Homo sapiens: one gene and its partners. The protein of the gene in region 1 interacts with the protein of each later gene in a biochemical or structural test. Each region holds a gene or a part of one and is shown in the gene's direction. Other genes may lie near its edges.

The links.
Region 2: of the proteins of CDH2 (region 1) and PTPRR, one has a biochemical effect on the other in vitro, tested with the Homo sapiens proteins (one large-scale study listed by IntAct).
Region 3: of the proteins of CDH2 (region 1) and PTPN7, one has a biochemical effect on the other in vitro, tested with the Homo sapiens proteins (one large-scale study listed by IntAct).
Region 4: of the proteins of CDH2 (region 1) and PTPRB, one has a biochemical effect on the other in vitro, tested with the Homo sapiens proteins (one large-scale study listed by IntAct).
Region 5: of the proteins of CDH2 (region 1) and PTPRK, one has a biochemical effect on the other in vitro, tested with the Homo sapiens proteins (one large-scale study listed by IntAct).
Region 6: of the proteins of CDH2 (region 1) and PTPRJ, one has a biochemical effect on the other in vitro, tested with the Homo sapiens proteins (one large-scale study listed by IntAct).
Region 7: of the proteins of CDH2 (region 1) and FAM20C, one has a biochemical effect on the other in vitro, tested with the Homo sapiens proteins (one large-scale study listed by IntAct).

Annotation. Positions count from the first base shown.
Region 1 is NC_000018.10:27,984,725-27,989,342, reverse strand, and holds part of CDH2 (cadherin-2 isoform 1 preproprotein), read left to right. Parts: intron 1-676; coding exon 677-819; intron 820-3,581; coding exon 3,582-3,815; intron 3,816-4,109; coding exon 4,110-4,343; intron 4,344-4,618. UniProt on the Homo sapiens protein: Calcium-dependent cell adhesion protein; preferentially mediates homotypic cell-cell adhesion by dimerization with a CDH2 chain from another cell. Cadherins may thus contribute to the sorting of heterogeneous cell types.
Region 2 is NC_000012.12:70,637,290-70,641,907, reverse strand, and holds the end of PTPRR (receptor-type tyrosine-protein phosphatase R isoform 1 precursor), read left to right. Parts: intron 1-2,235; exon of another isoform or gene 2,236-2,389; intron 2,390-2,630; coding exon 2,631-2,724; 3' UTR 2,725-3,829; downstream 3,830-4,618. Other genes in the region: PTPRB (receptor-type tyrosine-protein phosphatase beta), read left to right, coding at 4,513-4,567. UniProt on the Homo sapiens protein: Sequesters mitogen-activated protein kinases (MAPKs) such as MAPK1, MAPK3 and MAPK14 in the cytoplasm in an inactive form.
Region 3 is NC_000001.11:202,150,076-202,154,693, reverse strand, and holds part of PTPN7 (tyrosine-protein phosphatase non-receptor type 7), read left to right. Parts: intron 1-370; coding exon 371-508; intron 509-843; coding exon of another isoform or gene 844-858; coding exon 859-969; intron 970-1,994; coding exon 1,995-2,152; intron 2,153-4,269; coding exon 4,270-4,383; intron 4,384-4,618. UniProt on the Homo sapiens protein: Protein phosphatase that acts preferentially on tyrosine-phosphorylated MAPK1. Plays a role in the regulation of T and B-lymphocyte development and signal transduction.
Region 4 is NC_000012.12:70,626,723-70,631,340, reverse strand, and holds part of PTPRB (receptor-type tyrosine-protein phosphatase beta), read left to right. Parts: intron 1-4,618. UniProt on the Homo sapiens protein: Plays an important role in blood vessel remodeling and angiogenesis. Not necessary for the initial formation of blood vessels, but is essential for their maintenance and remodeling. Can induce dephosphorylation of TEK/TIE2, CDH5/VE-cadherin and KDR/VEGFR-2.
Region 5 is NC_000006.12:128,509,968-128,514,585, reverse strand, and holds part of PTPRK (receptor-type tyrosine-protein phosphatase kappa isoform b precursor), read left to right. Parts: intron 1-4,618. UniProt on the Homo sapiens protein: Regulation of processes involving cell contact and adhesion such as growth control, tumor invasion, and metastasis. Negative regulator of EGFR signaling pathway. Forms complexes with beta-catenin and gamma-catenin/plakoglobin.
Region 6 is NC_000011.10:48,164,441-48,168,448, forward strand, and holds part of PTPRJ (receptor-type tyrosine-protein phosphatase eta isoform 1 precursor), read left to right. Parts: coding exon 1-75; intron 76-2,763; coding exon 2,764-2,922; 3' UTR 2,923-4,008. UniProt on the Homo sapiens protein: Tyrosine phosphatase which dephosphorylates or contributes to the dephosphorylation of CTNND1, FLT3, PDGFRB, MET, KDR, LYN, SRC, MAPK1, MAPK3, EGFR, TJP1, OCLN, PIK3R1 and PIK3R2. Plays a role in cell adhesion, migration, proliferation and differentiation.
Region 7 is NC_000007.14:257,939-261,758, forward strand, and holds the end of FAM20C (extracellular serine/threonine protein kinase FAM20C precursor), read left to right. Parts: intron 1-707; coding exon 708-767; intron 768-1,792; coding exon 1,793-2,042; 3' UTR 2,043-2,834; downstream 2,835-3,820. UniProt on the Homo sapiens protein: Golgi serine/threonine protein kinase that phosphorylates secretory pathway proteins within Ser-x-Glu/pSer motifs and plays a key role in biomineralization of bones and teeth.

The DNA of each region.
Region 1 (4,618 bases):
TTCCAAACATAGCATACCTTTTCCAATCCAACTGGTTATCTAATCTTTAAAAGTTAATCCCCACTCCAAATTTTAAAAAGGAATTTAAGCTGATAAATCTGCCAATTCAGACTCAAGACTGTAGGACTTTCTTTGCAAAGGTATAGATCTGAGGCTTGGCCCAGTGTGAAAGATTCAAGTAGGAATGGGATTATGGTGGTCTCTCCAGTGTGGCTTCATGTTGGCCATGATAAAGTGTTAAAATGTTTTAGGAGTGTTCTGTGATGCAGTATTCAATTTCTATTATAATTTCTCTTAACTCCTGTACATTGAGACTACTGCTTATCTAGAAACTATATTCAAGCTATTTTACCTGAACCATTGATATCTGTTGAAGTGGACAAGAACCTAAAATGATAACTTTCCAATCTGCTTTAGCCCACATTAGGGAGACTGTGCACCTAGTCTTGTCCCTCAGACACCTGTAGAATGTTTCCTACATGCCTGACCAAACACAACCTTTATGTGCCTCCCAATACCACTGTCACAAAAATACTTTTTCCTGTTAAAGCTGTATGTCCAGCCATCATCTACAGAAATGCAAGTTAATGAGCCAGTTGCATTTGGAACTAAACCTGTAAAATATGTTTTTTTAAAGTTTCATAAAAAGAAATTAAACTTCACTTTCATTTTGTAGATACACTAAATTATCTGATCCTGCCAATTGGCTAAAAATAGATCCTGTGAATGGACAAATAACTACAATTGCTGTTTTGGACCGAGAATCACCAAATGTGAAAAACAATATATATAATGCTACTTTCCTTGCTTCTGACAATGGTATGTTCGCTGTTTTTTCTTGTATGTTGATGAAAGACAGTAGATCCTCATCATGCATGCTCAGGAATTAAAGTTTTCTACAAAACTCAATTGCCTGGAAAACTGACTTTTATAATTCCGAGGTCCAGCTTTTATTTATCATTTCAGACAGGTGTTCTGGAACATCCTTCACTGTCTTTGCAATGACTGTTCTCGATGTCCATCCATCGTTCATGTAGACATACCTTTGTTATCTTATTGTCCTGTCACATGTTGATGCCTTAAGTCCATCCTCAGTGGCCCTAGACACTGGGTTTTTTCAGTGGCTCTTTTTATATGTCTTCTAGTCACTCTGTTGCCTTTCATATGTGCATCTCTATCAGTCTTCCTTTTTATAATTCTCTGCCTCTGTCTGCCATGGGCTAGGAAACTTAATTTTGTGCATAAATTGAGATAAGTGAGTAGTGAGCTTCAGGGTATGGGTTTTAGAATACATATGTAGCACCTTTTTTTCCTTTCTGAGTCTCTGCTGGTTTCTCATTGGTTAAGATTAATAGATAAGGACTTTTTTCAGATATGTAATATAAAGGGGACTTTTGTAAACCTGATGAGGGGCTTATTTTGCTTCGTTAGCTCTCAGTACGATGTGTGTTTCAGACTTCAAGCTCTGGAGTTCTACAGGACCCCCAGGTGCAGACTCCGGCTTTCCCACTTTGAATCTGTGGGATTGCCATGAGGTTTTAAATATATCTGTTTCCTTTTTTTGTTAAATAGATACGTATCAGCACCTAACTCAGTGTTTTAACTAAAATGTAATGACTTCTACATATATATGAAGCATTTGAAACAGTGGCTGACACGAACTAACCACTCAACTAAGTATTCCTATTGCGTATTAATAGTTTCAAAACTGAACCACAACTATATTTTAAAATATTTTCAGTATTAAACTATGAATATGAATGTTGGTACTTAATAAAAAATAGCAGGCTTCAATTTGGTGGTTGAAGTTGGTGTTTGCAATTTTCAAATTGTAAAATATTTTGCATTACTAAAATAAGACATATCAATACTTTAAGAATAATGTCAGTGAACCTTTCTAAATCTGTATACTAAGATTTAATGAGATTACTATCTGTAGAAAATCTATGTAGTGACCAACCAAAGAAATATTTCTTATCCTTTTTAATATGGGACCTCTTGTTTAAATATTTAGTGTTGGAACTTTGTAGGAATAGCTTTTGCCATTGTACATCAAAGCATGTCATTAGTACCTGTTTTATGCTTTTTTGCCATAAACCGTGGCTTTCTTCTACAGTGGTACTGAAAGTAATGCATCTTGAATCATTATGTTAAGATCTAAAGAGCCATAAAATTATATGTATGTATGTATGTATGTATATTGGTTGTGAGTTACAACCAGATTTCTCATTCACCAGGAAGGATTGTTTTCTAATTGAAAGGGCTTTTGATAAGAGAGAGAAGTGACCTGTTATAATGTATGTAGCTGTGATGCTTTGCAATTGCACTTTCCTTTAAGCCACAAGGCTAGACTTGGAGCCCCAGCTCTGTTCGTTAATGATTAGTCAAGCTCTTATACTCTGTATGCCTTAGTTTCATTATTGATAAATTGTTTCACTACCTACATATTCTATATAGTTGTTATAAAAGTATAGTAATATTAAATGTGATAGTAAATTTCGAAGTCCCTCAAACTGTTGAGTATCATAGTGGTCATGGTGGTGTTGGAATATTGTAACAGCCACTATACCCTTCCAGTTCAACTCTCCCTGCTCTTAGAACCATCATATTCCTCATAGAAGTTGGTAAACATTCCTCCTTATTCCCTCCCCAGGATTGTGTATGTATGTGCACCTTCCTAGTTGCATGACCTTTGGCAGGTCGCTTAAGTCTCTGGTCTTCAGTGTACAGCATTATTTATAAAATATTCATAAACATATTATATATTTGTGTGTGTGTGAATATTTACAATGTAGCAGAAGCAAATCACCAGATTAAATTATCACACAAAGTGGTGGAGACAGCATTTTATTATAGTGGAATGAGAATGGGTTTGAGGTCAGGCCGACCAATATTTAGTAGCAACTCCACCACTTACAAGAGTGTGTGGCCATGAGCAGTTTACAGACTCAGGTTCATCTGTGTAAACCTGTGTCATAGGATTACAATCAAAGAGTGTACATAGAGCAGCCTAATATGATCTCAAGCAGGTAGTTGGTTGGTTAGTAAATATCATTTCTCTTCTGCATGATGTTCCTTCCTGAGTTGAGGTCTGTGGTTCTGTATCACTTGTCTGTAGACTGTTGCGTTAAGTCAAAGCTGTGTTAGAGCGTTAAAAGCATTCTTATGTTCTTTCATGCATATGTCTTGGTTCTCCATAAAAAGAATAGTGTCAACAGGATCACGAGCCCTGTGTTTGCATCTCCAACACTCCTCACAGTGCCTGGAGGAGCATGGTCTACGCAAGCCCTGAATAATGGGCAGGAGGGGCAGGGAGGGTACGGGATTCCATCACAGGGGCATTCTTCGTCACCTTGCTCAGCTCCTGCAGAGCAGCAGTGGCAGCTCAGGGTCATTCTAGCAGGGAAGCAAGAAGGGGCTTTGTTCTGGAAACGGTCTGCCCAGATGCCATAGCAACTATGTTTTTCCAAGGTTACACAGTTAAAAGGGCCAGAAGGTTAGAAGCTTTGAGAATTTCACCATAATTGAGGCTCATTGGAGAGAACTGTTCAGCATCATTTGTGATTTTTCTCTCTTTTCAGGAATTCCTCCTATGAGTGGAACAGGAACGCTGCAGATCTATTTACTTGATATTAATGACAATGCCCCTCAAGTGTTACCTCAAGAGGCAGAGACTTGCGAAACTCCAGACCCCAATTCAATTAATATTACAGCACTTGATTATGACATTGATCCAAATGCTGGACCATTTGCTTTTGATCTTCCTTTATCTCCAGTGACTATTAAGAGAAATTGGACCATCACTCGGCTTAATGGTAAGAACAGGTTAATTATTTGAATATATGTGCAGTTGAGAGATTTTGAAGCCTGGCATGAAAAGTTAATTTTATGTGCTTCATAATCTTCTCATTATACATATTTTAAAAGCTACTTAAAGTTTAAGTAAGATATTAAAGGCCTTTACGGCCAAAAAAGTATTTAGAATGCAGCATAGTTGTAATCCGCTTTATGTGTACTATTAGGTAGTAAATACATCCTGAACAATGCTATGTGTTTTTTTATCGCTTTAAGTATTACCTATCAAACTATGTTTTTCCTTTTTCATATAGGTGATTTTGCTCAGCTTAATTTAAAGATAAAATTTCTTGAAGCTGGTATCTATGAAGTTCCCATCATAATCACAGATTCGGGTAATCCTCCCAAATCAAATATTTCCATCCTGCGTGTGAAGGTTTGCCAGTGTGACTCCAACGGGGACTGCACAGATGTGGACAGGATTGTGGGTGCGGGGCTTGGCACCGGTGCCATCATTGCCATCCTGCTCTGCATCATCATCCTGCTTAGTGAGTACTTTTATTGTCTTTTAGATTTCAGTTCTCTTGGCTTCTAGGATGTTCAGCAAAGTCATGTGTTGCTATTGCCTGGCAAAGTAGTCTAACAACCCTTTGACCTTTCAGCATTTCCTCGCCAATCATATATGGGTCGACCAAGTCCACTTTAGAATGAAAAAACCCCAGAGCATTGTTTCAAGCACTTGATGTTTGCAACAAGCTGCCTCAGCATGCCTCTTCCTTGCCCTCTTACCCTTTCTCATGCTTATTGCTTAGGGAGCTGTAGT
Region 2 (4,618 bases), on another chromosome or scaffold:
TGATGGCTGTTTTCCAGCCTTTGGAGAGCTGTTGTGTGACTACAGGGGAGCCTTAAGACGTCTTTTGGGTTATTTCAGTTGGACCAATGCGGTGAAAGTTAGAAAGGACAGATTCATGTTGATGTCTTAAAAGTTTTCCTGCCAACCTTGGAAAAGGCTGCCTCTAAAATTGCAAGATTTCTAAAAAAGCTATATTGTCAGTGACTAGAATGGATGATCTCTAAGAATTCCTCTGATGCCAGTTTTTTTCATTTTTATTTTCCAAATTAAGTGGGAGGTAAGAGAACTTTTCATATACTTTCCTGAAGCCTTCAGACCTGCAAGAATTTTGCCAGCCCACAATTAATGAGTATGCTTCTCCATCTTCCCCACTTTCACTGGCTAAAACAACCTTGATTTAGTGAACAGAATGTCATAGTAAATATACTCCAACCATTAAATTACACCACTGACCCACTTAGGGTGAAACAGTTATTAAATTCTAAACTGTGTCTCCATTCATTCACCAGTTGGACATGTAAATACCAGTGCTGACCAGAACATACAAGAAGGGGAAAATCTTGCCTCAAAGTGAGGTAAATGGTGAGAGGAAGCTGACAGACCAGAGCCTAAGAGGTGGAGCACATAGAAGCTTCCACATACTGTCTGCAGCTCAAGAGGGAGTAATGGTGCCCTGAGCTGTGCAAATGCCAGAGGAAGGGAGGCACCTCTCAGCTCCCTGGAGCTACCCTAATATTTACTGTGGTGGTGTCTCCCAAGCTTCACAGTTCAAGCCAGCATCTTCGGAACACCTGCTATGATTTTAGATGAGCCCAGATGTCATCACACAGCTAAGAAGATAAACCATTACCACATTCTCAGCTGGCCATTTCTGTTGTTCACTTCTGACCAAGGAATACTTAGCCCAGAAGGTTGCCTTCAATGCAACAAAATGTACAGCTCTAGGGGAGGAAGACCAATTAAATACTTCTGTCAATAAGTTGCTGTCACCAAAAACTGTGAATTTACCTCTTTATTTTTTGCCAATTACATCATTTTGACATCATGTTAATTTTCCTGGGGAATCACTGTTTAGTTTAAAACAAGGAAGTTTTACTGCTCTAATATTGACATAGATTGACAAATAAACATAGAAGCCCAGTTTTTATTATTACCATTAACTAGAAGTCTTGTTACAGTGAGACAAGATATCTTGTTTTTAAGTTGAAGTGCCTAAATAATCTGAAAGTTATTTTGAATGATACTAACAACCACTTGGAAAAATCTGGTTAAAACATAGAGTTAAACTAAAAGATAAGATCAGTTGCATGATTGCAGAGTTACAGAGAATTTACAAGACTTTAAATAGTTACCGATAGTGATGCTTTTATACAGTGAGCAGGAATAGTAACATATTAATGTCTGGTAACTTTGTCAAGCTAAAAAATCATAATTATAGGACTGGACACCGTCGTTCAAGCCTGTGATTCCATCACTTTGGGAGCCCAAGACAAGAGGATCACTTGAGTCCAGGAGACCAGCCTGGGCAACATAGTGAGGCCTTGTCTCTACAAGAAAAAAAAAATTTAAAAATTGTCCAGGTGTGGTGGTGCCTGTGGTCCCAGCTACACCAGAGGCTGAGGTGGGAGAATTGCTTGATCCCAGGAAGTTGAGGCTGCACTGAGCTGTGATCATGCCACTGCACAACAGCCTAAGCAATTAAGGAGACGTTTTCTCAAAAACTAAAATTAAAAAAGGATCATAATTATGAAGGGGGAAAATGTGATATAGGTATTATGTATATAAAAACATAATGAGAAGCACCGTTATTTCTCATGAAGGCAAGTGCTTTCTATGAATCCATTGACAAGGAGGGTGCTGGGCAGCTAGTGATGATAATGGTGATAACCAAGAGGAAAATGTCACAGCAGAGCCAATTCCCTTTTTCCAACTCATTTAAGGACCCACCCACTATTGTGTTTAGACACCCCGTACACCAAAAGGCTAAGGTTGCTTCTGTACAACATATTCAAATAAACCATTCCAAGGTAGACTTCATTTTACTTGTAGAAAGCAACATTTTGCAGATGAGTTTTGTTTGGTTTGTCTCCGTCAATCAATTTTAAGCCAAATGTATAAACCATTTTAACAAGAGATGAATCATGAGGCACCTGAGAAGTAATACAAATATACCAGCTACAATGAATTTATTTAACCTTCACAGCAGTAGTTACTGTTACTATCCTGCTTTAACAGAGGAAGAAACTAAAGTGCAAGGGGTTTCGAGGAATTTGTCCAAGATGCATACAGCTAAGAATTGGCAGAGGAGGGATTTGAACTCACCTTGGCTGATGCCAAATCCAAGTACTTGATCATTAGGCTGTACCACCTCCCCAGTAATGTTACACAGGTAAAAATTAATCACGTGCCTAGTGTGTGCTGGGAACTGTGTTAAGCCCTTTATATACATTACCATGTTAACTTTGATAGTTGAGACATTTGGACACAGGTAAGAGGGATAACAAAAGAACCACTAGGTCGACTGTTCTATGTGTCTTTGGCATAATACCCTAGCTTGGATGAAATCTCTGTGTTACTTGAAATTGCAAGATTTTAGCAAAATCAGTTATTTTATGATTTCTTCCTTGCAGAGGTGGAATGGTGCAAACCAGTGAGCAGTATGAATTTGTGCACCATGCTCTGTGCCTGTATGAGAGCAGACTTTCAGCAGAGACTGTCCAGTGAGTCATTGAAGACTTGTCAGACCATCAATCTCTTGGGGTGATTAATCAAATTACCCACCCAAGGCTTCTAGAAGGAGCTTCCTGCAATGGAAGGAAGGAGAAGCTCTGAAGCCCATGTATGGCATGGATTGTGGAAGACTGGGCAACATATTTAAGATTTCCAGCTCCTTGTGTATATGAATGCATTTGTAAGCATCCCCCAAATTATTCTGAAGGTTTTTTGATGATGGAGGTATGATAGGTTTATCACACAGCCTAAGGCAGATTTTGTTTTGTCTGTACTGACTCTATCTGCCACACAGAATGTATGTATGTAATATTCAGTAATAAATGTCATCAGGTGATGACTGGATGAGCTGCTGAAGACATTCGTATTATGTGTTAGATGCTTTAATGTTTGCAAAATCTGTCTTGTGAATGGACTGTCAGCTGTTAAACTGTTCCTGTTTTGAAGTGCTATTACCTTTCTCAGTTACCAGAATCTTGCTGCTAAAGTTGCAAGTGATTGATAATGGATTTTTAACAGAGAAGTCTTTGTTTTTGAAAAACAAAAATCAAAAACAGTAACTATTTTATATGGAAATGTGTCTTGATAATATTACCTATTAAATGTGTATTTATAGTCCCTCCTATCAAACAATTACAGAGCACAATGATTGTCATTGGGTATATATGTATTTACTCTCTATTATTGGGCATAAAGGTGGCTTCTGCTCCAGAACTCTATCCACTGTATTTCCACATCGTGAGTCATTTTACTTTAAAAGGGAAAAACAAATTTGTAGCAACTCTGAAGTATCAAGAGTTTTAACTACTTGTCTCTCTTTTGCTAAGAAGGGATTTTTGAATATGCTATCTACCTGGAATCTCTCTCTCAACAAAAGGTATATGCCTTCAGGAATGATATAATCTGTCCCATTTTCGAGGCTCCTTATAAGGACATTTCCATGTATGTCCTTACATTTCTGAAAGCTTTCAATCTTCAAGAGACAAAAAAAATTAAAATAACTACCCTCAGCAAACACTAGCTGTTCTGCTCATATATGAATTTTTAATGCAGCAATGTTGACTTTGTTTCATACTGCCAATAAACTCTTAATACTAAATACTGAGTAAAGCATATTCTTTTTTTTTTTTCTATTTGGAAAGACGCCATCCTCTGTTTGGGGAAGACCAAAGTAGATAATGTGATGGGTTTAATTTTAGTGTCTGCATCTCCCCAGTGAAGATGACGATCTCAAAATGTAATATTGTCATCACTTGGGAGATAATGATCTAGAAGTGCCATCATTATGTGGTTTTCCTCAATAGACTCGCAGCATATCATTATACAAACAGTACATGTTTATGTCTTTATATCACTTGTCATAGACCCTCATCAATTACATGGCTTATGTTTATTCAGCAGAATCACATCACCTGAAGAGATGTAATGTTTCAGGAACATTCAATTATCTGAGATTTCAATTCCTTTCTTTCTTCTTGAGGTTAAGAAGCAGTCACATGCCAAAGGAAAGGTAGGTGAGGTCTTAACGAGATTTACTCTGCTCTTGAAGGCTGGAATATTTTCTACATTAAAAAAAAGAGGTAATCATAATCCCTTCTTTCTAAGGAAACAGACAAAAGGACACTGGTGTAAAACTTCCCCAAACAATTCAATAGGAGGAAGTGCTCGTCACTGACTTTTCCCCCCACCATGAAGGCACATTTCCTTCCTAGTCTTTGCTTCTCTTATCTGGGAGAATTTTTTTTTTCCCCAAGCGAAGCATGAACAGTTGCTAAGTGGAAAATGGAGGCTGAATTTTACATGGTGATTCTTACCTGCTTGATCTTCAGGAACTCAGGTGAGTGGGTCTGCCTCAGTGTCCTGAGGCATTTCTTCAAGATCTAGCCAA
Region 3 (4,618 bases), on another chromosome or scaffold:
TAAACATTTATAGAGCACTTGCTATCGGCTAGACTCTCAATATATCTTACTGAATTTAATCCACTCTACATTCCTACAAGATAGATATTATTATGCCCAATTTACAGATGATACCACTGAGGCTTACGGAGGCTAGGTAACTGGCTTATAGTGGTACAGCCAGGAAACAGCAGAACAGGGATCTGATCCTCATTCCAGAACCCGTATCCTTTCCATCATGTGGCTTCTGAGTGTGCGTGTTCGTGCATGTGTACGTCTACACGTGTGGTTCACAGCTTCAGGCTGACCCCAGCACCTGAGGCATCTAGGATCTCCCCAGAGCTCTGCTCTCACTGCTCCCCACCCCTTCCCCTGTGCTTCCACCTTCCAGGGCTATGACGGGAAGGAGAAGGTCTACATTGCCACCCAGGGCCCCATGCCCAACACTGTGTCGGACTTCTGGGAGATGGTGTGGCAAGAGGAAGTGTCCCTCATTGTCATGCTCACTCAGCTCCGAGAGGGCAAGGAGGTAGGAGGCAGAGCCACAGTTCATGATGAACCCAGAAAGTGCTATGCCCACCCCACCCCCACCCCACACACAGGGCAGCTCAGAACCAGAGGTTTCCCTGGGAGCCAGCCCCAGCTCATACCTCTCAGAAAGTTCCCTGAGATATAGCCCTGGGAGGCTGTCTATGGCCAAAATACGGGATAGGGTGAGCACTCTGCTTGCAGGTATCAAGCTCAGAAGAGCCAGGCTCCCTGTTGCTGACCTCCCATCCAGTAGGGGTGGAGGATGGGGAGGAGATACCAGCCCCTCTCTGCTGCCCTGTCACCTGCTCCAGCTGACCCTCTTCTGACTCCCAGCTCCCTCCCTCCTAGAAATGTGTCCACTACTGGCCCACAGAAGAGGAAACCTATGGACCCTTCCAGATCCGCATCCAGGACATGAAAGAGTGCCCAGAATACACTGTGCGGCAGCTCACCATCCAGGTACCACCCCCCCGGAGCCAGGCCCAGTGGGAAGTTGGGCCGCCCACAGCATCTCTGGGACTCAGGCTGGCTCTTCACTAGGAGCCAAGGGTTTGCTCTTCTAAACCATCTTAAACCCACATCTATAGCAGAAAGAGAAACTTGAGCACTGTCCTCAGCCTCTAGTCTAATAGGGCAGAGCCAATAAGCCAAATAGGACTACCGGGAAGTACTCACCCATCTGTGTAAATGGTCAGGCGGGGACAGGCAGGATCCAGGAGCAGGGCCAAGGGAAGGAGAGGAGGTTAAAGGAGATGTGGAAGGCCAGGTGTGGCGGCTCATGCCTGTAATCCCAACACTTTGGGAGGCTGAGGGGGGCGGATCACTTGAGGTCAGGAGTTCCAGACCAGCCTGGCCAACATGGTGAAACCTTGTCTGTACTAAAAATTACAGCTGTTTGGAAGGCTAAGACAGGAGAATCACTTGAACCCAGGAGGCAGAGGTTGCAGTGAGCCAAGATTGTGCTACTGCACTCCAGCCTGGGTGACGGAGTGAGACTGTCTGTCTCAAAAAAAAACAAACAAAATAAAACAAAAAAAGAGAAAGAGATGTGGAATAACATGTACACAAGGGCTTTTAAAATGCCTTCTATTATTTTATGGTGTTTTATATTTTTGAAAGCATTCCTCTATCAACTCATTCTCCTCCAAATATCCTGGCAAGTAAACCAGTAAGATATCACTGTTCCCATTTTCCAGGTGAAGAAAATGAGATCAAGGGACTTGCCCAAAGTCATGTGCTTATGGGAAGCAGAGCCAGGGCTTGAATTTGGGTCTCTCCCCTCTCCCAGGACAATGCTCCTTCCCGGGATTTTGAAGGGGGAAGTGGTGGAGAACAATGAGCACGAAAATTGCAACCTAGCTTGCTTTGAGTAGATGACCCCCCCACAGGGTAATTCCAGCCCTTGCCCTCCTCAGGCACCAGAGAAGAAGGTAGACAGTGCCCTCCACCCTGACCTTGGTTCTCATGCCTTGTCTCCAATCCAGTACCAGGAAGAGCGCCGGTCAGTAAAGCACATCCTCTTTTCGGCCTGGCCAGACCATCAGACACCAGAATCAGCTGGGCCCCTGCTGCGCCTAGTGGCAGAGGTGGAGGAGAGCCCGGAGACAGCCGCCCACCCCGGGCCTATCGTAGTCCACTGCAGGTGCGTGGCCCTCCCTTCACTGCAGCCTGTGGACTGTGCTCCCCTCCCCTGCCCCCTGGGTCTCTCCTGGGGAAGGGTCTGAGCAGAAAAGCATCAGGCAAGCCTAGTCCTTACTCAGACATGACTCGCAAGGCCATTCAGCAAGGGCTCTGTTCTTTTTACCTCCTTCACGCAGAACCCAGACATCTGGGCTGGACACCCAGGCCCCATCCATAGAGGGGATGGAATATCAGGAAGATCCCAGTCAGCTGCAGGAGGACATAAACAGGATTCCAGCTGTTGGGGAACTCATTTACTTATTCAACAAATATGTATTGAAAATCCTATTATTGGCCGGGCACGGTGGTTCACACCTATAATCCCAGCACTTTGGGACGCCAGGGCTGGCAGATCACCTGAGGTCAGGAGTTTGAGACCAGCCTGGCCAACATGGTGAAAACCTGTCTCTACTAAAAAATACAAAAATTAGCCAGGCGTGGTAGCACACACTTGTAATCCCAGCTACTTGGGAGGCTGAGGCAGGAGAATTGCTCAAACTCTGGAGGCAGTGAGCCGAGATCACACCACTGCACTCCAGCCTGGGTGACAGAGCGAGACTCCATCTCAAAAAAGGAAAACCTATTTTTGTCAGGCACGGTGTTAGCTGCTAAGGAGACAGCTATGAACCAAGCAGTTTGGTTTCTTCCCAGACAGTTTTATAGGCTGGTGGGAAAGAAGGCAGATTAGGCTGGGTGCAGTGGCTCATGCTTATAATCTCAGCACTTTGGGAGGCTGAGGCGGGAGGATCACCTGAGGTCGGGAGTTCAAGACCAGCCTGACCAACATGGAGAAACCCTGTCTCTACTAAAAATACAAAATTAGCCACACATGGTGGCGCATGCCTGTAATCCCAGTTACTCGGGAGGCTGAGGCAGGAGAATTGCTTGAACCCAGGAGGTGGAGGTTGTGGTGAGCTGAGATCGCACCATGGCATTCCAGGTTGGGCAACAAGAGCAAAACTCTGTCTCAAAAAAAAATTAAATACCACGCAATGTGATGAGAGCTGTGATGGGGATATTATGGGGACCATAGAACCAAGTCTCCTAAACCAGACTTTGACCAGAGAAAGTTTTCCAAGAGAAAGGCCATCTAAGCCAAGCTAAGACCTGAAAGGTGAATTAGCCAAGTGAAGAGAGGGAAGGGAACACGTTCCAGGCAAGTGGAAGAGCACATGCTAAGGCCCAGAGAAGAAATGTGAAAATGGATACACTGCTGGGAGCAGGGTTACAGGTTAGGCCCAGAGGTTGTGTGTGGGGTAATGATGAGAGATGGGTTTGGAAGGCCAGTGAAGGTCAGATGATGAGGGGACTTGGAGGACTGGCTAAGACACTTGGATTTGCCATTTTAAAAGAACACTTTGGCTATAGAGTGAAAAATGGATTGGGCCAGAGTGAGGGGGTGTCGTAGGGGACAAGACTAAAGAAAGGGACCATTTGGGAGTGCATATCCTAAATAAAACAGAGCACAGAGGCAAAAGGCATGACACAGGGGCCTCCCAGCCCACCCACAGGTAGCACTGGGACATGTGCAGGGAGGTCATTAGGGGCTCACGCAAGAGGAAGGGGAGGCCTAGGGGGTTTTGAAATAAAGAGAGGGCACGATAGAGAAAGCAGAACAGAGTGGAGAGAAGACTGTGGGAGGGCGCCAAGGTGGGAAACAGAGGGGCCGGGCGTGGGCTGCGTGGAAGATGAGTCTGAGCTGAGAGGAAGTCAAGGTTAGATAAGGAGGGCTCGAGGGTCAGCACACCCACAAGTGGGAAACTGTCTGTTGGAAACCACTGTAGACTCAGCAGAAGGGAGATCGTCAAAATGTCCACAGGGACCAAAAGGTGGCCTGCAACAGGCTTACAGTAAGGCTGGTAAGAAATGTAAACTCCTCCCATGCCAATTAAAACCTGCCTCCAGCAGGGCCCCCAAGGGGACTGGAAAGCAGAGTACTGCTACCTGCCTCCATCTCCAGAGCCCTATCCCCAAAATATAGCACCTGCAGGTCCCATTTCTTTCTCCATAGTTTGGGGCCTGGCTCTCATATTCCCTGGTCTCCCATGACCTCCCTGTCCCCTCCCTGGCTATCTCCAGTGCAGGGATTGGCCGGACGGGCTGCTTCATCGCCACGCGAATTGGCTGTCAACAGCTGAAAGCCCGAGGAGAAGTGGACATTCTGGGTATTGTGTGCCAACTGCGGCTAGACAGGTGGGTCTGTGGGTGTAAACAAGGCCAACAACGTTAACGGATGGCATCAGTGCCTCTGGGCCCCAGAGTTCTGCTAGGCCCATCACCATCAAGCACTCCTGCAAGAAAGGAAGAAACCCTTTCTGCTTAGAGCTGTTTATTTTACAACTAACAACCAGGAAAAAATATCTATCTGGATGGCCGGGTGCGGTGGCTCACACCTGTAATCCCAGCACTTTGGGAGGCTGAGGCGGGT
Region 4 (4,618 bases), on another chromosome or scaffold:
TAGGGAATCCTTTCCCCATTGCTTGTTTTTGTCAGGTTTGTCAAAGATCAGATGGTTGTAGATGTGCGGTATTATTTCTGAGGGCTCTGTTCGGTTCCATTGGTCTATATCTCTGTTTTGGTACCAGTACCATGCTGTTTTGGTTACTGTAGCCTTGTAGTATGGTTTGAAGTCAGGTAGTGTGATGCCTCCAGCTTTGTTCTTTTTGCTTAGGATTGTCTTGGCTATGTGGGCTCTTTTTTGGTTCCATATGAACTTTAAAGTAGTTTTTTCCAATTCTGTGAAGAAAGTCATTGGTAGCTTGATGGGAATGGCATTGAATCTATAAATTACCTTGGGCAGTATGGCCATTTTCACGATATTGATTCTTCCTATCCATGAGCATGGAATGTTCTTCCATGTGTTTGTGTCCTCTTTTATTTCGTTGAGCAGTGGTTTGTAGTTCTCCTTGAAGAGGTCCTTCACATCCCTTGTAAGTTGGATTCCTAGGTATTTTATTCTCTTTGTAGCAATTGTGAATGGGAGTTCATTCATGACTTGGCTCTCTGTCTGTTATTGGTGTGTAGTAATGCTTGTGATTTTTGCACATTGATTTTGTATCCTGAGACTTTGCTGAAATTGCTTAACAGCTTAAGGAGATCCAAAATTTCAGCCCAAAGCTGAGACTATGGGATTTTCTAAATATACAATCATGTCATCTGCAAACAGGGACAATTTGATTTCCTCTTTTCCTAATCGAATACCCTTTATTTCTTTCTCTTGCCTGATTGCCCTGGCCAGAACTCCCAACACTATGTCGAATAGGAGTGGTGAGAGAGGGCATCCTTGTCTTATGCCGGTTTTCAAAGGGAATGCTTCCAGTTTTTGCCCATTCAGTATGATATTGGCTGTGGGTTTATCATAAATAGCTCTTATTATTTTGAGATCTGTTCCATCAATACCTAGTTTATTGAGAGTTTTTAGCGTGAAGGGCTGTTGGATTTTGTCAAAGGCTTTTTCTGCATCTATTGAGATAATCATGTGGTTTTTGTTGTTGGTTCTGTTTATGTGATGGATTACATTTATTGATTTGCATATGTTGAACCAGCCTTGCATCCCAGGGATGAAGCTGACTTGGTTGTGGTGGATAAGCTTTTTGATATGCTGCTGGATTCGGTTTGCCAGTATTTTATTGAGGATTTTTGCATTGATGTTCATCAGGGATATTGGTCTAAAATTCTCTTTTTTTGTTGTGTCTCTGCCAGGCTTTGGTATCAGGATGAGGATTCCCTCTTTTTCTGTTGATTGGAAAAGTTTCAGAAGGAATGGTACAAGCTCCTCTTTGTACCTCTGGTAGAATTCGGCTGTGAATCCATCTGGTCCTGGACTTTTTTTGGTTGGTAGGCTATTAATTATTGCCTCAATTTCAGAACCTGTTATTGGTCTATTCAGAGATTCCACTTCTTCCTGGTTTAGTCTTGGACACATTATGAGTCCAGGAATGTATCCATTTCTTCTAGATTTTCTGTTTTATTTGCATAGAGGTGTTTATAATATTCTCTGATGGTAGTTTGTATTTCTGTGGGATCGGTGGTGATATCCCTTTATCATTTTTTATTGCATCTATTTGATTCTTCTCTGTTTTCTTCTTTATTAGTCTTGTTAGCAGTCTTATGTAGTTTGTTGATGTTTTCAAAATAACAGCTCCTGGATTCACTGATATTTTGAAGGGTTTTTTGTGTCTCTATCTCTTTCAGTTCTGCTCTGATCTTAGTTATTTCTTACCTTCTGCTAGCTTTTGAATTTGTTTGCTGTTGTTTCTCTAGTTCTTTTAATTGTGATGTTAGGTTGTCAATTTTAGATCTTTCATGCTTTCTCTTGTGGGCATTTAGTGCTATAAATTTCCCTCTGTACGCTGCTTTAAATGTGTCCCAGAGATTCTGTACATTGTGTCTTTGTTCTCATTGGTTTCAAAGAACATCTTTATTTCTGCCTTCATTTTGTTATTTACCCAGTAGTCATTCAGGAGCAGCTTGTTTAGTTACCATGTAGTTGTGCGGTTTTGAGTGAATTTTTTAATGCTGAGTTTTAATTTGATTGCACTGTGGTCTGAGAGGCAGTTTGTTGTGATTTCTCTTCTTTTACATTTGCTGAGGAGTACGCAGTCATTCTTTAAAAAAATGTTTCAAGGGTAATTTTAAAGTTGCATATTTTTAAACAGTCTTTTGGGGGCACACAAGAGTTTATCATATTAATAGTTTAGCTAGCACCATTATTACTAACCACTTCTTCTTCCTGAATAAATTAATAAATGTTTCAACTTTGTGCAAAGTGTTTACTGTCAGAACAGTAAAGGAAAAAGGAATAATAAAGCTTTAAGGACTACTTTCAGGAATGCCATGAATAGTTAGTGTATGGCATCATAAATTATTGCTTTTGTCTTCTGTGCAATCCAAGTATAATTTTTAAACTCACCAAGCAATCAAATGTTACAGTTGACCAGGCACAGTGGCTCATGCCTATAACCCCAGCACTCTGGGAGGCCAAGGTGGGAGAATTGCTTGATGCCAGGAGTTCAAGACCAGCCTGGGCAACACAGCAAGACCCTATCTGTAAAAGAAAAAAAAGTTACAGTTGCATCTATTCCAGCAAGAAATAGCACTGGCCCCAAGCAGACAACAAAGCTTACAGTGACCCAGTTATTGAAGTTTTATGAATCTATCAGATGGGGAAAATTTCTCATGCCTTGGCCTGTACAGAAACAGGGAAATTTACTCAAAGGAAATTACTGGTTTGCTACTAGATCTAAGCAAATATTCCTTGCCAGGGGGAAATTAAAACATTATAAACTCAAAACTGGTTTCAAAAACATTCACGCAAATCCATGGGCCGATAGGCCATGCCTATGTCATTCCAGAACTTTCAGGTGAAGGGTGCAGAACTCCATCCATGGTTTGGATAACTTTTCGAAGGAATGTCAAGTCTCCTTACATTTATAAAAAGCTAGTCAATTGTCTAAAATTGTTATTTTTCACTCAGACATTTCATTCTGTGAAGAAAGTAACACTGAATATAGAATGTCAGCCAACCAATCAGCATTTATTCATTTATTTACCACTCAATTCAGATTCATTCATTCAAATCTCACCTTTATCTGAGGGCAGGAATTTTCTTTTTTAATTCCAAGGGCTGCACTGGAAAGCAGGCAAATATTTGTAGGCAAATTTTCAAGTGTCCCTGATATGGCCGAACCGGTAAAATCCCTAAAAGAGATTTTGCTGATGAACTAAACCATATTGTTGGCAGGCTCGATTTAACTGCTGGTTAAAGTAATTGTTTAGTTGTAGTGATTTGGGAGAGGGAATAAAATGTGTGAACATTGTAAAAGATAAGCAATCATATACACCCTTGGGAAAAAAGTTTTCGTAGAAGTTGTTGGCTTTACTGGCCGGCAGAAGTACTTGTGAATACGAAGAGCTTGTGGGGAAAAACAAAACAAAACAGAAAGTGCCTTTTGTGTATACAAACCCTACTTGTACTAAATTGGCTGTCACGGTCATTTTAGGGTTTTTCTTCTTGCATCATTGTAACAACATGGGCCTTGTAGTGGACCATTTTTAAATATAATGTCTGAAAATAATGTTATCAATGATTATTGATATATGATTTATATGATCATTGAAGATAGCAGGTATAGCATCCAGCATTCCCCAACCATATTCAGCCTGTGACATGTCACTGAACTTATCAGGGCACACACAGGGCTATGTATGACTTTCATGGGCCCTGGGTTCTTTTGCCTCTATGGTCCCTTTCCTCTGCTGAAAAAAAGAAAAGTAAAATAATAGATTTTCATGTAGCCTAAAATTGTCATTTTTCCTAATCTATGAAAAAGTTAAAACATTTTCTTTGACTCTAAAGTTTCTTTTTTATTTTCAAACAAATTAAATCATTGTGTTGCCCTAAAATTATCATGGGCCCTAATCACTGTGCCTATTGCGTCTAATGGACAAGTCAGTCCTGCGCACGCCAAGTTATTCACCCCCTTTCCAGCTCCCCTTTCCCTGACTCTGTTTAGTCTCTGGTTCAACACCTCTCTCCTATAGCCTGATAGCCCTGAACTTTGGAGCCATTCTTCCTCCTCCACCCAGCATGCCTTCCTTCCACCCTACTATTTCAGTCTTTTCTCCTAAAGAAAACATAGGGTGTTAGGTAAAACAGGCACATCTTCATAATGCCATGCATAGTAGAATCGTTGAGTAATAGTTGGCTATTGAAATGTATTTCTTTGATTTAGTTAGCCTTTCAATTATTTTTTTAGTCTAATTTATTCCCTGTGCTATGCTTTAGTGTTTTACTATGCTATGTCTTGTATCAATTTCCATTTATTAATTTTACTTTCTTTCTAATCATGGGTCTTTTAAAAGTAATTTAGATATGTATTTTAGGTGCACTCTTTATTTCACTAATTATATTTTCTGAAATGTTAATTATTCTTTTAACCATTTCCAATAATTATTTAGTCCATTATCATTCCCATCTATTCCAGTCAAGTCTTATTTAATGCACACACACACACGTGTGTATGTGTGTGTGTACAGTCATCCTTCAGTAACATGGGGATGGGTTCCAGCACCTC
Region 5 (4,618 bases), on another chromosome or scaffold:
GATAATGAAAATGATGAACAGGGCAGTGCTGGCTGAATCCTCCAACAGGTGTCATTCTAGGAATTGTTTTAATAAGGGGAATTCAGAAACAAGGCAAAATAAAATAGTGCGTAGTGGAGTTATTGTTTGTATTTATTTTGTTGGGAAATGTGAAAGATGTAAGTATGTAGTCCTCTGTGTGAATACACACACACACACACACACACACACACACATCTTAACAATGCTAGGACTTAGTTGTAGAAACATTTAGGTTAGAAAGAAGGTAAGGGCATCTAGAGATGGTATCAAAACTCCATACTTAACATTTTTGGAAAGAGTAGTGAAAATAGATCACTACTTTATTTCATAGATGTAGAAACAAGTGGAAAATAAGCTGTATATAATCTATACTGTATACTATACTATACTGTTATACTTTTAAGGATAAAATAATAAATCTTTCTCCAGATTGGTATCTATTAATATAAACCCTTCCCAGTGCAGCCTGTTCCTTAACCAGCTGCTCATAGGCCGATTCTCCAAGCGCTGTTCAAGGCAGCAGCTGACCAGCCACAGAAATTCCCTTAATCCGTGTTGGATAGTGGAGGTGACCTAGCAGCTGCTTAAGTGACAGACTGGCAACAGTTCCTTGATGTGATTTTTCTTAGGTCATTCAGTAAATTCAAGAGTAGAGAGGAAGGCTTTCTAGGGTCCTCACTACCCACCCAGGGATTGATGACTGATTGCTTCATGGTCATTGGATTCCTCACTGCAAGGTGTCCTGGGATTTTGTGGTTCATGGACCAATATAATTAGCATCATCTGGAAATTTGTGATGATCTGTGATCATCAGAGTCACCCCAGATCTACTGAATCAGAATCTGCATTTTGATGAAATCCCCAGGTGATTTGATGGAACATTTAATTCTGGGAAACACTGCTCTAGGACAAAGAAAGCTCAGTTTAAAAAGATTGTCACATGAACTTTACCATAGAATTTCAAGAATATTGCAAAAGGATTAATGATAACCTGAAATACATTTCCTTGGATTTATATTTCTTTTTCCTTTCTTTTTCTTTTTCTTTATTTCTTTCTTTCTTTCTTTCTTTTTTTTTTTTTGGAGATGGAGTCTTGCCCTGTCACCCAAGCTGGAGTGCAGTGGCACGATCTCGGCTCACTGAAACTTCTGCCTCCTGGGTTCAAGAGATTCTCCTGCTTCAGGCTTCCAAGTAGCTGGGATTACAGGTGCGCCACCATGCCCAGCTAATTTTTGTATTTTTAGTCAAGATGGGGTTTTACCATGTTGCCCAGGCTGGTCACGAACTCCTGAGCTGAAGTGATATTCCTGTTTTAGCCTTCTAAAATGCTGGGATTACAGGTGTGAGCCACCATGCCCGGCCCCTGGAGTATATTTCTGATCAATATTTACTTGATTATTATTTAATATTCCAGACACATCAAAACAACAGTACTATACAAGCTTTTTAAAAGAATGCTCAGATGACTTTGAAAAAAAATATTTTCATAAGAGACTAAAAGTAAGACTAGTTTTGGTTATGAATATTTTGTATAAGAATATTTAAAGATAAACATACTCTTCAAGGAACCAAACATGCTATATGCAAATCATTTTTAGCATAATGTTATGTTGATACAGGAAATACTATTCCCTCTGACATTACTAGTAGCAGTCTCTTGCTTTATAATTCTCTTTTTCATCTAAGTGTAATTTAAGATCTTTGTAGTAAGGAGCTCATTTATAGGACAGTCAAATTTAATGAATGGGAGTTGGTAGGTAGAATGCATTAAATATAACTGGTGTTCTTTTTATTATCTTTTGTGCTCATATTTAAGAACAGAGATTCTTGTCAGTTTTCTCAAGAGAAAAATTATGATGTAATAGACAGTGTACACTATTCATGTCAAAACACAATTTTACTTGCATTTTATAGCTTGCTTTAGCATTCTTTTAGAAAATGAATTTTCCCAGAAGACCTAATTGCCTTCTTATTAATGAGCCTGTAAGTGTTTTTTGTTATCCATTTACTATTCTAAATGTGTCTACTTGTGCTAGCTGTTTCAACAGTGTTGTCTCTGATTAAATCACAACTGCTATATTTGTTTTTGCCATTCACTAGTGATTCAGAAAATATTGGCATAATGACGTGGTTATGGCAGAGACTAATAAAAAACAAGAAGTAAAAATTAATGTTCACCCATTACAGTTGGCTGTATCATGAGATCAGAAGCTGGAGTTTGGGATAATAGCAACGTTCTCTATATTTTTGATACTGTAAATAAAAGTCTGCATAACCTATATTGTCTTAAATATAAAATATATAATTTATTGAATTAATGAACTGTAAATCAGTGTATTTCCATATGTACTTAATTTAGACACTAATGTTTAAAGAAAGATTTAATAGGAGACTGATCACTGTTAGAGGAGAAGTAGTGGTGGAGAGACTCTGAGAGGGCACTTTCGTATATCTTCAAGAACTTCACAGTTACTTTTTCTAGTTTGACTCCAAATTCTGGAACTTGTCTTTTTTACTAGTACTGCTTTTATTCTTATGAGCAATAATTAGGTTCATTTATTTTCTTATATGTTGGAGAAGAGAGCTTTTCCTAAAGCAATTGCAAAAATAACAATATGAGCTGTAATTTACTGAGAGCCCATGACCTGCTAGGGCCTGTGATCAGTGTTTTACATAATTTTAAATCCTCACAATATCCTTTAAGATGAGGATCATCTCCATTTTACAAACTAAGGCCTCGAGGGGTTAAGTAATAACTTGTCCCAAGTGGCTATATGAGTCACTGGTAGAGTCAAGATTCGTTAATGAATGTACACAAATGTTTAAAGATTAGACATTTCTTTGGTTGCATCTTGGCAGAAAATGTAACCCAGACTGGTTGCAACAAAAGGTGAATTTATTTGTCTCTCCTAACTACAGTTCAGGTGGAGCTTGATTTAGAAGTTGACGTAATTCCACTGAGACATGATGTTTCTCTGCCTGCTTAGTTTAGTTCTAGGGTATTCCAGGAGCTTCTTAGGCTCCATATAGAGGCACGATGGCTGTGGCAGCTCCCACCGAACAAGATCCCAGGTTCAAGTCCCTTAAGGAAATGTGAATTATCTGCTGGTTGCACCTGATAAGGCTCTAAGGTTTACAGTGCTTGAATCCACTGATCTTGTTTCCAACCATTGAATCTAAGGCTCTGACTGAGGGGAAGTTAGTGTGCTGATTGGCTTGGCCCAGGGTTTGTAATCTTTCTAATGGGGAAGAAAGAAGATGGGAGATGATGGGGAAGAGACAGTAGGATCAGATTGTTCTCTGTTGTGGACCACTAGGTGATCTCTAAGTGGGAAAGCGTGGAAGAGAAAGAGAGGAAAGAGGCAATTTGTGTCTGGCAGGCTTGTATACATTTACAGATCACCTGTTTTTAATCTGAGAGTGTTTATTTATTGGCTTTCCCTTTAAGGACTACTTTAAAGCATGAATTTATATTATTTCCATTATTTTATTTTCCTTGTCTCAGTATTGAATTAGTCTAACATTAAAAATTTGTAGAATTTGGTGTTAAAAAAGATCTTAGAAATTAATGACCCCTTCATTTGACGTAAGTTGCCCAAAGTCATACAGGTAGGAAGAACTTGAGCTCAAATTAAAGATTTTAATGTATAGGTTAGTGTTCTTACTATATATGTATCATATATTAATGTATACTATATATATATCATTTTCCTTAACAGTAATCTATATAATTATTATTTAAGATTAAAAAATTTTTGGCTTGTATTCCAAATTTCTGAAACAATATTTCCAAATATAAACCTGACTTAGTGATTGGATTTGATTAGAATAGTAGTCTGCATATAAGGTGATAATATGTCTGTGAATGCAAGAGACTATCTTAGATAACTGCTTGGTTTTCAGATATCATGACAGAATTTATACATGTATGCATGTATAGGTGTTTGCATGTATGCATTTATTTATTTTTAATAGAAAGCAAAGGGTAAAGTAAGCTGTGGTAAATGATATTGACACAGACAAAACCTACTAACTCTACTATTTTTGAAAACCTCAAGAGATGATGGTGATTTTATTTTTAATTTTGATCCTCTAACCTCTGCTGCCTAAATTTATTATGTATATCTGAGCAACATGGGATATTAGGAAGAGTTGCTATAAGAAATATCTTGGGGTACTGAATAATGAATAAAATGTAGAGAAGTAGCAGCTGTTTGCCTAGCTACCTCCTCTCCTAATGAGAGATTTACCCAGGCTGTCTTAATCACATGTTAGTGCTAGTGGATTTGACTGAGGACCATGGCTGTGCCAGTTGAGGCCAGGGGATAGTCTCCAGGCACTTTAATGGTCCGTAATGGACCTTCAATGGCCAGGGCAGCTGGCCTGGCACATAGGGGTGTAGACAGTGGTTGAGGAGGAAGGTTTACTGACTTCATCATGCTTCCCTTTGTCACTGGAGGCTTGTTTTCGTACACTTTTGTCTATTATCATAAATAACTTATGATAATAACTTATGACTCTTTTTCTGTCTTATTTATGTCCTTATGTGATGACTGTCAGTCCTAAATGATGAAGTTTGTAATAATTTGCCCTAACC
Region 6 (4,008 bases), on another chromosome or scaffold:
AATGAGAACACCGTGGATGTGTATGGGATTGTGTATGACCTTCGAATGCATAGGCCTTTAATGGTGCAGACAGAGGTGAGGCCAAGATCTGTATTTGACATTCCACCCTTCCCCTCCATTTTTTTTTTTTTTTTTTTTTTTTTTGAGACGGAGTCTTGCTCTGTCGCCCAGGCTGGAGTGCAGTGGCATGATCTTGGCTCACTGCAACCTCTGCCTCCTGGGTTCAAGTGATTCTCCTGCCTCTGCCTCCCAAGTAGCTGGGATTACAGGCACGCACACCATGCCCAGCTAATTTTTGTAATTTTAGTAGAGACGGTGTTTCTCCATGTTGGCCAGGCTGGTCTCGAACTCCTGACCTCAAGTGATCTGCCTGCCTCAGTGTCCCGAAGTGCTGGGATTACAGGCATGAGCCACTTTGCCTGGCCCTTCCCCTCCATTTTTAAAAGGTTGCATTGTGTCATGCACTTGTGTTAAAATATGTCACCCTTCCAGATCTTTCCAGCTCTTGGCTGTGAACTAACACTGGATTTCTTTGCAGACTTTAAGCTGACTTGGAATTAAATTACCCAATACAAGTGACATAGTAGTACTGATGTCAGTAATGGAACTACTACTGAGATAGTGTCAGGATTCTTTACCTTGCTGCCTCTGACTCATTAAATAATCTTAGGACATCTTTGAACTTTGGCTTCCAGGTTTTAAACTCATAAAACTGGTATTTTCCAGTCTTTGTTTCTAAGAAGGTCTGACCATCTTTAAAATAAGCTAATGAAACAAACTCATCAAACATTAATGATGTGACATATCATAATGCTGCTTAAATGTTAATACAGCAATTTATCCTCACCCAGACTTGTACATTTTAAAGACTATCAATTATCATAGCTACAGAAGGGTGGCTGACCAGCGGAGAAAAGGAACACTTAATATCTATGGTATAGTTTCTGTACTACTGCTGGATTTGGTTTTACCCAAACTGTTACTGAGAAGTGTTTTTGAGGCATGTTTTCAACAGAACATATTGCAAAGTTGCTTTCCTCAAAGGGGTGAATGTTCCTTGACCAGGATGAGAGCAGAATATTAATTTTGTATCAGGCTATCGTCCTGTACCGATTTAGAACTCTATGAATATGTGCTGTGTTTTTGAGTCTAGCAGGGAATGTTCTAGATGCCTGGGTACATTGCGTGCTCTGGGGTGAGCTTGGTGGTTGTTGTGGAAAGAGTGAAATTCAACTCCTGTGTTGGTCAAAAGAGAGATTTTCTTTTTTCTGCTATAATTATATAAAGTAGTATTTCTCAATCTTTTATCCTTTTTTGAGAAACATAGAACTCTTATCCCTGCTACTAGAGTCTAATCTCTTTTTTATATTTTGAAAACAATACTTATTCATATGAAAGCATTTGACAATATATTTTTCTCTCCTCTTTTTTTTTTTTTTGAGACGGAGACTTGCTCTGTCACCGGGCTGGATTGCAGTGGTGCGATCTCGGCTCACTGCAACCTCTGCCTCCTGGGTTCAAGCGATTCCCCTGCCTCAGCCTCCCAAGTAGCTGGGACTACAGGCGTGTGCCACCATGCCCAGCTAATTTTTTTTTTGTATTTTAGTAGAGATGGGGTTTCACCATGTTGGCCAGGATGGTCTCGATCTCCTGACCTCATGATCCGCCCGCCTCGGCCTCCCAAATTGCTGGGATTACAGGTGTGAGCCACCGTGCCTGGCCTCAATATATTTTTCTCTTACTCTTCCTTCCCCAATCCTGCTTCCTGGAGGTAGCCAATGTTTATAGTTTGGTGTACATCTTTATAAGACTCTTTATGTACATCTGTAAACACACACACACACACACGCACACACAGTACTTTGAAAAAATTGGATGCTGTTTTTTTTTTGAGATGGAGTCTTGCTCTGTTGCCCAGGCTGGAGTGCAGTGGTGCCATCTCAGCTCACTGAAACCTCAACCTCCTGGGTTCCAGCGATTCTCCTGCCTCAGCCTCCTGAGTAGCTGGGATTACAGGTGTGTGCCACCACGCCCAGCAAATTTTTGTATTTTTAGTAGAGACGGGGTTTCACCATGTTGGCCAGGCTGATCTCGCACTCCTAACCTGAGCCGATCTACCTGTCTTGGCCTCCCCAAAGTGCTGGGATTACAGACAGGAGCCACCGCGCCTGGCCAGATCCTGTTTTATGTATGTTGCTTCTCTGTGATTTTTTTTCTCCTCTTATAATATCATGGATATTTTTCTGTGTCAGCTTATACCCTTGTTTCCTCTTTTCTTCATCACTATCCACAGATTCTGATATACCTACCTGAAGGATAGTCCTCATCCAGCTCCACCTGATCATCTCCTTTTAACCTCGCTCCTCGGTTGAGCATTACAGTTGATTCTTACTCTGTACAGTCTCACTAGCCAAGGCAATCTTGTTGGACATTTGATTGTTCGAATGTGTGTGTGCATTTTTTCCTCTACATTTCCTCCTTCCTTTGCCCTTCCCTGAGACTGTGGCATTTTTCCTTGGGGAGGGGAGGTGTGGAGTGTGCTCTTCTGGTTGAGAATCATTGAGGAAGGACATCTTGCTTCTGTGATTTCAGATTTCACTGCAATGTTGTTACCTCTTGAAACATGTTCGCTTGAACCGTTTGCTGTTGGGTGGATGGGGTTTGGGAGTTGGGCGGGGGAATGACCTGTTTGAAAATAATTTTGGGTGCTAATTTCTGGGACCCATGTTCATTTTCTGTCTCTCTCTTTCGTTTTTCTATCAGGACCAGTATGTTTTCCTCAATCAGTGTGTTTTGGATATTGTCAGATCCCAGAAAGACTCAAAAGTAGATCTTATCTACCAGAACACAACTGCAATGACAATCTATGAAAACCTTGCGCCCGTGACCACATTTGGAAAGACCAATGGTTACATCGCCTAATTCCAAAGGAATAACCTTTCTGGAGTGAACCAGACCGTCGCACCCACAGCGAAGGCACATGCCCCGATGTCGACATGTTTTTATATGTCTAATATCTTAATTCTTTGTTCTGTTTTGTGAGAACTAATTTTGAGGGCATGAAGCTGCATATGATAGATGACAAATTGGGGCTGTCGGGGGCTGTGGATGGGTGGGGAGCAAATCATCTGCATTCCTGATGACCAATGGGATGAGGTCACTTTTTTTTTTTTTCCCCCTTGAGGATTGTGGAAAACCAGGAAAAGGGAGCTATGATTTTTTTTTCCAAAACAATTTCTTTTTTAAAAAAGACTATTTTATATGATTCACATGCTAAAGCCAGGATTGTGTTGGGTTGAATATATTTTAAGTATCAGAGGTCTATTTTTACCTACTGTGTCTTGGAATCTAGCCGATGGAAAATACCTAATTGTGGATGATGATTGCGCAGGGAGGGGTACGTGGCACCTCTTCCGAATGGGTTTTCTATTTGAACATGTGCCTTTTCTGAATTATGCTTCCACAGGCAAAACTCAGTAGAGATCTATATTTTTGTACTGAATCTCATAATTGGAATATACGGAATATTTAAACAGTAGCTTAGCATCAGAGGTTTGCTTCCTCAGTAACATTTCTGTTCTCATTTGATCAGGGGAGGCCTCTTTGCCCCGACTCCGCTTCCCCTGCCCCCTGTACATTTGTGCTCCATTTTTTCTTCCCTTTTCCCTCCCAGTTTTCTCCAAAGACTCTTCTGTTGGCAACATTTTCAACCCATTGGTTGGGTGAGAATGGCGACTCAAATATCACCTTGAGAATTTCTGTGGGTGGGAATGGGAGAAGCAGAGGAATCCTACAGTGGCAGAAATCCTTTTCTTGTCCCTGTATTATCCTTTTTCTCATGTCTGTATTTGGTATGAAGGATTATTTAAAGGTGCAATATGTGAATTAGTGATTCATGATGTTCTAGGTTTTTAGTAACGTTTTACTCAGGTTGGCATTTTATGTGTCTGTGTCTGTATGTGTGTGTGTATGTTCAGAAGCGTGGCAATCTGTGAACACTTCAGCGTG
Region 7 (3,820 bases), on another chromosome or scaffold:
ATGCCCGGGGTGGACCCACTGCCTGAGGTGCTGGAGATAGGCAGTGTGGACCCACTGCCTGGGGTGCTGGAGATGGGGCTGGGTGGACCCACTGCCCGGGTGCTGGAGATAGGCAGTGTGGACCCACTGCCTGGGGTGCTGGAGATGGGGCTGGGTGGACCCACTGCCCGGGGTGTTGGAGATAGGCGGGGTGGACCCACTGACTGGGGTGCTGGAGATAGGCAGGGTGGACCCACTGCCTGAGGTGCTGGAGATAGGCAGGGTGGACCCACTGACTGGGGTGCTGGAGATGGGTGGGGTGGACCCACTGCCTGAGGTGCTGGAGATAGGCAGGGTGGACCCACTGCCTGGGGTGCTGGAGATGGGTGGGATGGACCCACTGCCCGGGGTGCTGGAGATGGGCAGGGTGGACCCACTGCCTGAGGTGCTGGAGATGGGCAGGGTGGACCCACTGCCCGGGATGCTGGAGATGGGTGGGGTGGACCCACTGCCTGGGGTGCTGGAGATGGGTGGGATGGACCCACTGCCTGGGGTGCTGGAGATGGGTGGGATGGACCCACTGCCCGGGGTGCTGGAGATGGGCTGGGTGGACCCACTGCCTGGGGTGTCGGGTACAGGCAGGTGGACCCATGGCCCAGCTCCCAGCCCAGCAGCCTGTTAGGAACCTTGTACAGGGGCCCTTGACAATTCTGCTTTTCTTCTGGAAGGTTTGGGAAGTATTCGCACGACGAGCTCTCCATCCTGGTGCCGCTACAGCAGTGCTGCAGGTACAGCCCCTGCCGGAGCCGGCTCCAGCTCCACCCTCCTCCCTACTGCGCAGGAGACAGAGGAGGCCACAGCCTTCCCCACCCCACCCCGGCCATCACATGGGAGAGAAAAGGCCCCGAATTCAACCACAGCCCTGAATTCAACCCACACCCTCACTCGGCGGCCTGGAGGCGCAGACCTCACCCGCCCACCACCCCAGGCCCATCCAGCTCGAGCCCCCTCGGGCCTCCACTCTGTGTCCGTCCTGCCACCCCAGTTACAGAGAGAGCTCGAGGCCAGGGCAGACGCCAGCTGAGACACAGGGACCCTGCTCCCGCACGCAGCTGCCGGTCTCTGCCACTGCCACCTTCTGCGGGGGTTCAGACCCCCTTTCCCCCGTTTCATGGCTGGGGACGCAGGCTTGCAGGGCAAACGCTTTGTACTTCTCTAAGGAGGCATCACAGCGCCCGTGTTGTGCGGATGTGCTGAGCTGGGGTCGGTCTCCTGGGTGAGTGGGCCGCCCTCCTCACCTCCCCATCCTCCTGGGTGAGCGGGCCGCCCTCCTCACCTCCCCATCCTCCTGCCGGGCCCCTCTGGGAAATACACCGGCCACCACATCCTGCAAGGGCACCCTCATCCCTTGTGCAGGTGAGAGGCGGCAGACCACGCCGAAGCAGGTCACACAGCCCGGAGGCTGATGAGGTGTTGGATCGCAGGCCCCTCTCTCGCGGTCTCTCTCGTCTCTGCCGTCTCTATCTGTGTCTGTCTCTGTCTCTCTCTCTGTCTCGGTCTGCCTGTTTCTCTTTATCTGTGTCTCTTTCTGTCTGTCTGTCTCTGTCTGTCTGCCTTTCTCTCTCCCTCTCTTTCTCTCTGTGTCTCTCTTTCTCTGTGTATGTCTCTGTCTTTTTCTCTCTGTCTCTGTCCCCCTCTTTCTCTCTCTGTCTCTCCCCCCACTCTCTCGATCTCCCTCTCACTTTCTCTCGCTTTCCCGTGGGCAGGCATCTCCCCTGTCCCGTGCCAGGCCTGATGCCCCTCTCCTCCCCAGGATCCGGAAGTCCACCTACCTGCGTCTGCAGCTCCTGGCCAAGGAGGAGTACAAGCTGAGCCTGCTGATGGCCGAGTCTCTGCGGGGGGACCAGGTGGCACCCGTGCTGTACCAGCCGCACCTGGAGGCCCTGGACCGGCGGCTCCGCGTCGTGCTAAAGGCCGTCCGGGACTGCGTGGAGAGGAACGGGCTCCACAGCGTGGTGGATGACGACCTGGACACTGAGCACAGAGCCGCCTCGGCGAGGTAGTGTCCGCCGGCCGCTGCGCTGCCCGGGACGGAGACAGAGGCGCCGGACCTCCCAGCAAGCGCATGCGCCCGTCGTGAATTCAGTGAATTCAGAGGCAGGACGGGATCATCCGGAGTCGGGAGCTGCTGCCACAGGAGGCGAGGCTCCCCAGGTCTCATAGGACACATTTTGTCAGTGTTTGACCAGAAAAGCTTGGGAAGGAAGCGCTGTCTGTGCTCACGGACAGAGGCGGCCGGCGCCGGAGGCATTCCATCCTTTCTGTAGGGAAAGGAGCCTTTATTTACTATTTTGTATTTATATTTGATGAATAAGTATATAAACAGAGACGTGTACACAGATGCCAATCACCTACCAAACCAAACACGAGGACCGCCCTCCCTGGTTCTGGGGGCCCCTCAAGGCCAAGCTCACCCCTCAAGTGCTCTCACACTCGGGACCTAATTCAAGTAAAAACCCTTTCTCCTTCCTGGGGCCTCGGCTCCTGGAGGGCTGGAGGGTCTCGTCTGAGGACGGGAGGAGGCTCTCGCTGGACGTCTGGCCTGTGCGCTGGTGGACGGATGCCTACGTGGTTTTGGAGGACCCGATGACCAGGCGTCCTGCGAGTCCGCCCGCTGGCCTGCAGCACCCACCTCGGACTTGGCTGTGGACGGTTGGTGCAAGTGCATCCTGCAGGGCTGGCTGTGCGCAGCTGTGGGCTGACCTTTGCAGAGTTTTGTGGAATAGTTTGCAATGTCATAAAAGTGCAATAAAGGTACAGCAGATGTGTGTCGGCCTCACGGGGCGGGTCCCTCACACCCTGGTGTGTGGCTGCCTGTCCACCCCCTCTCCAAAGAAAAACCAGTCCTGGAACCAGGCATGGCCAGGAGTCGGCATTCAAGGTGGCCTGGACCCGAGGCCTGCTGGGGTCGGAGGGGGCTGCCTGCCAAGCCCTGGTGCAAACAGGCCAGGTGGGGCCCCACCTCCAAGGCAGGGCGGTCCGTCCTGGGTTGCTCTCAGAGGCTGGGGCCGCGACCCAAAGCTGCGGCGGCCCCGAGGGCAGCCCCTGTCTGTAGCCCTGGCATGGGCAGCTTCCAGTGTTCCAGCAGGACTGGGCAGCCATGCGTGGGGCAGCTGCCCCGGGGCTGTGGTGAGTGAGGGGCACCGTGAAGGGTGCCAGCCCCTTCCCACTGCTGGCCTCGGGGCTGCAGAGATGGGGCTGGGCTCCCAGGCCAGCATCTCCCCTGCTGGCACCATGTGAGGGGCAGAGGCAGGAGCCAGCATGCTGGCTACCACCTGCCCAGCGTCACACGGCCCAGGAGCCCTAAGAAATCAGCTGTGGGGCCGGTCACTGTGGCCCCCTCTTCTAAGAGCCTCTGCATCCACTCACCTGTCCGTTCCACAAAGTCCCTGACACCCATTTGAGCTGTGCCAGGCTGGGTGCAGCGGGGCCTGAGAGACTCAGCTCTGTCCTCATCACCGCCGCCTTGCAGAGCAGCGGGAGACGCACAGTAAATGCACAGATGGGTCACAAACAGGGCCCTGCACATGGCAAGGAAGTCGGCAAGGGCAGAGGATGCGCCAGGCAGACATTGCGTGTGGGGCAGCCAGGGAGGTGCTGTGGCCCCTTCATCCACTGGCTGGAGCCGGCCCCCCCATGTCTCTCTCTGTTTGGGACTGAACCAAAAGAGGTGATTAAGTGGCGGGAGGGTTCGGGTGGTCCCGGTCCAATCTGACAAGAGCCCTTATGAGGAGAGGAGACACAGGGACGGCCCCGTGAGGACACGGAGAGGATGACATCC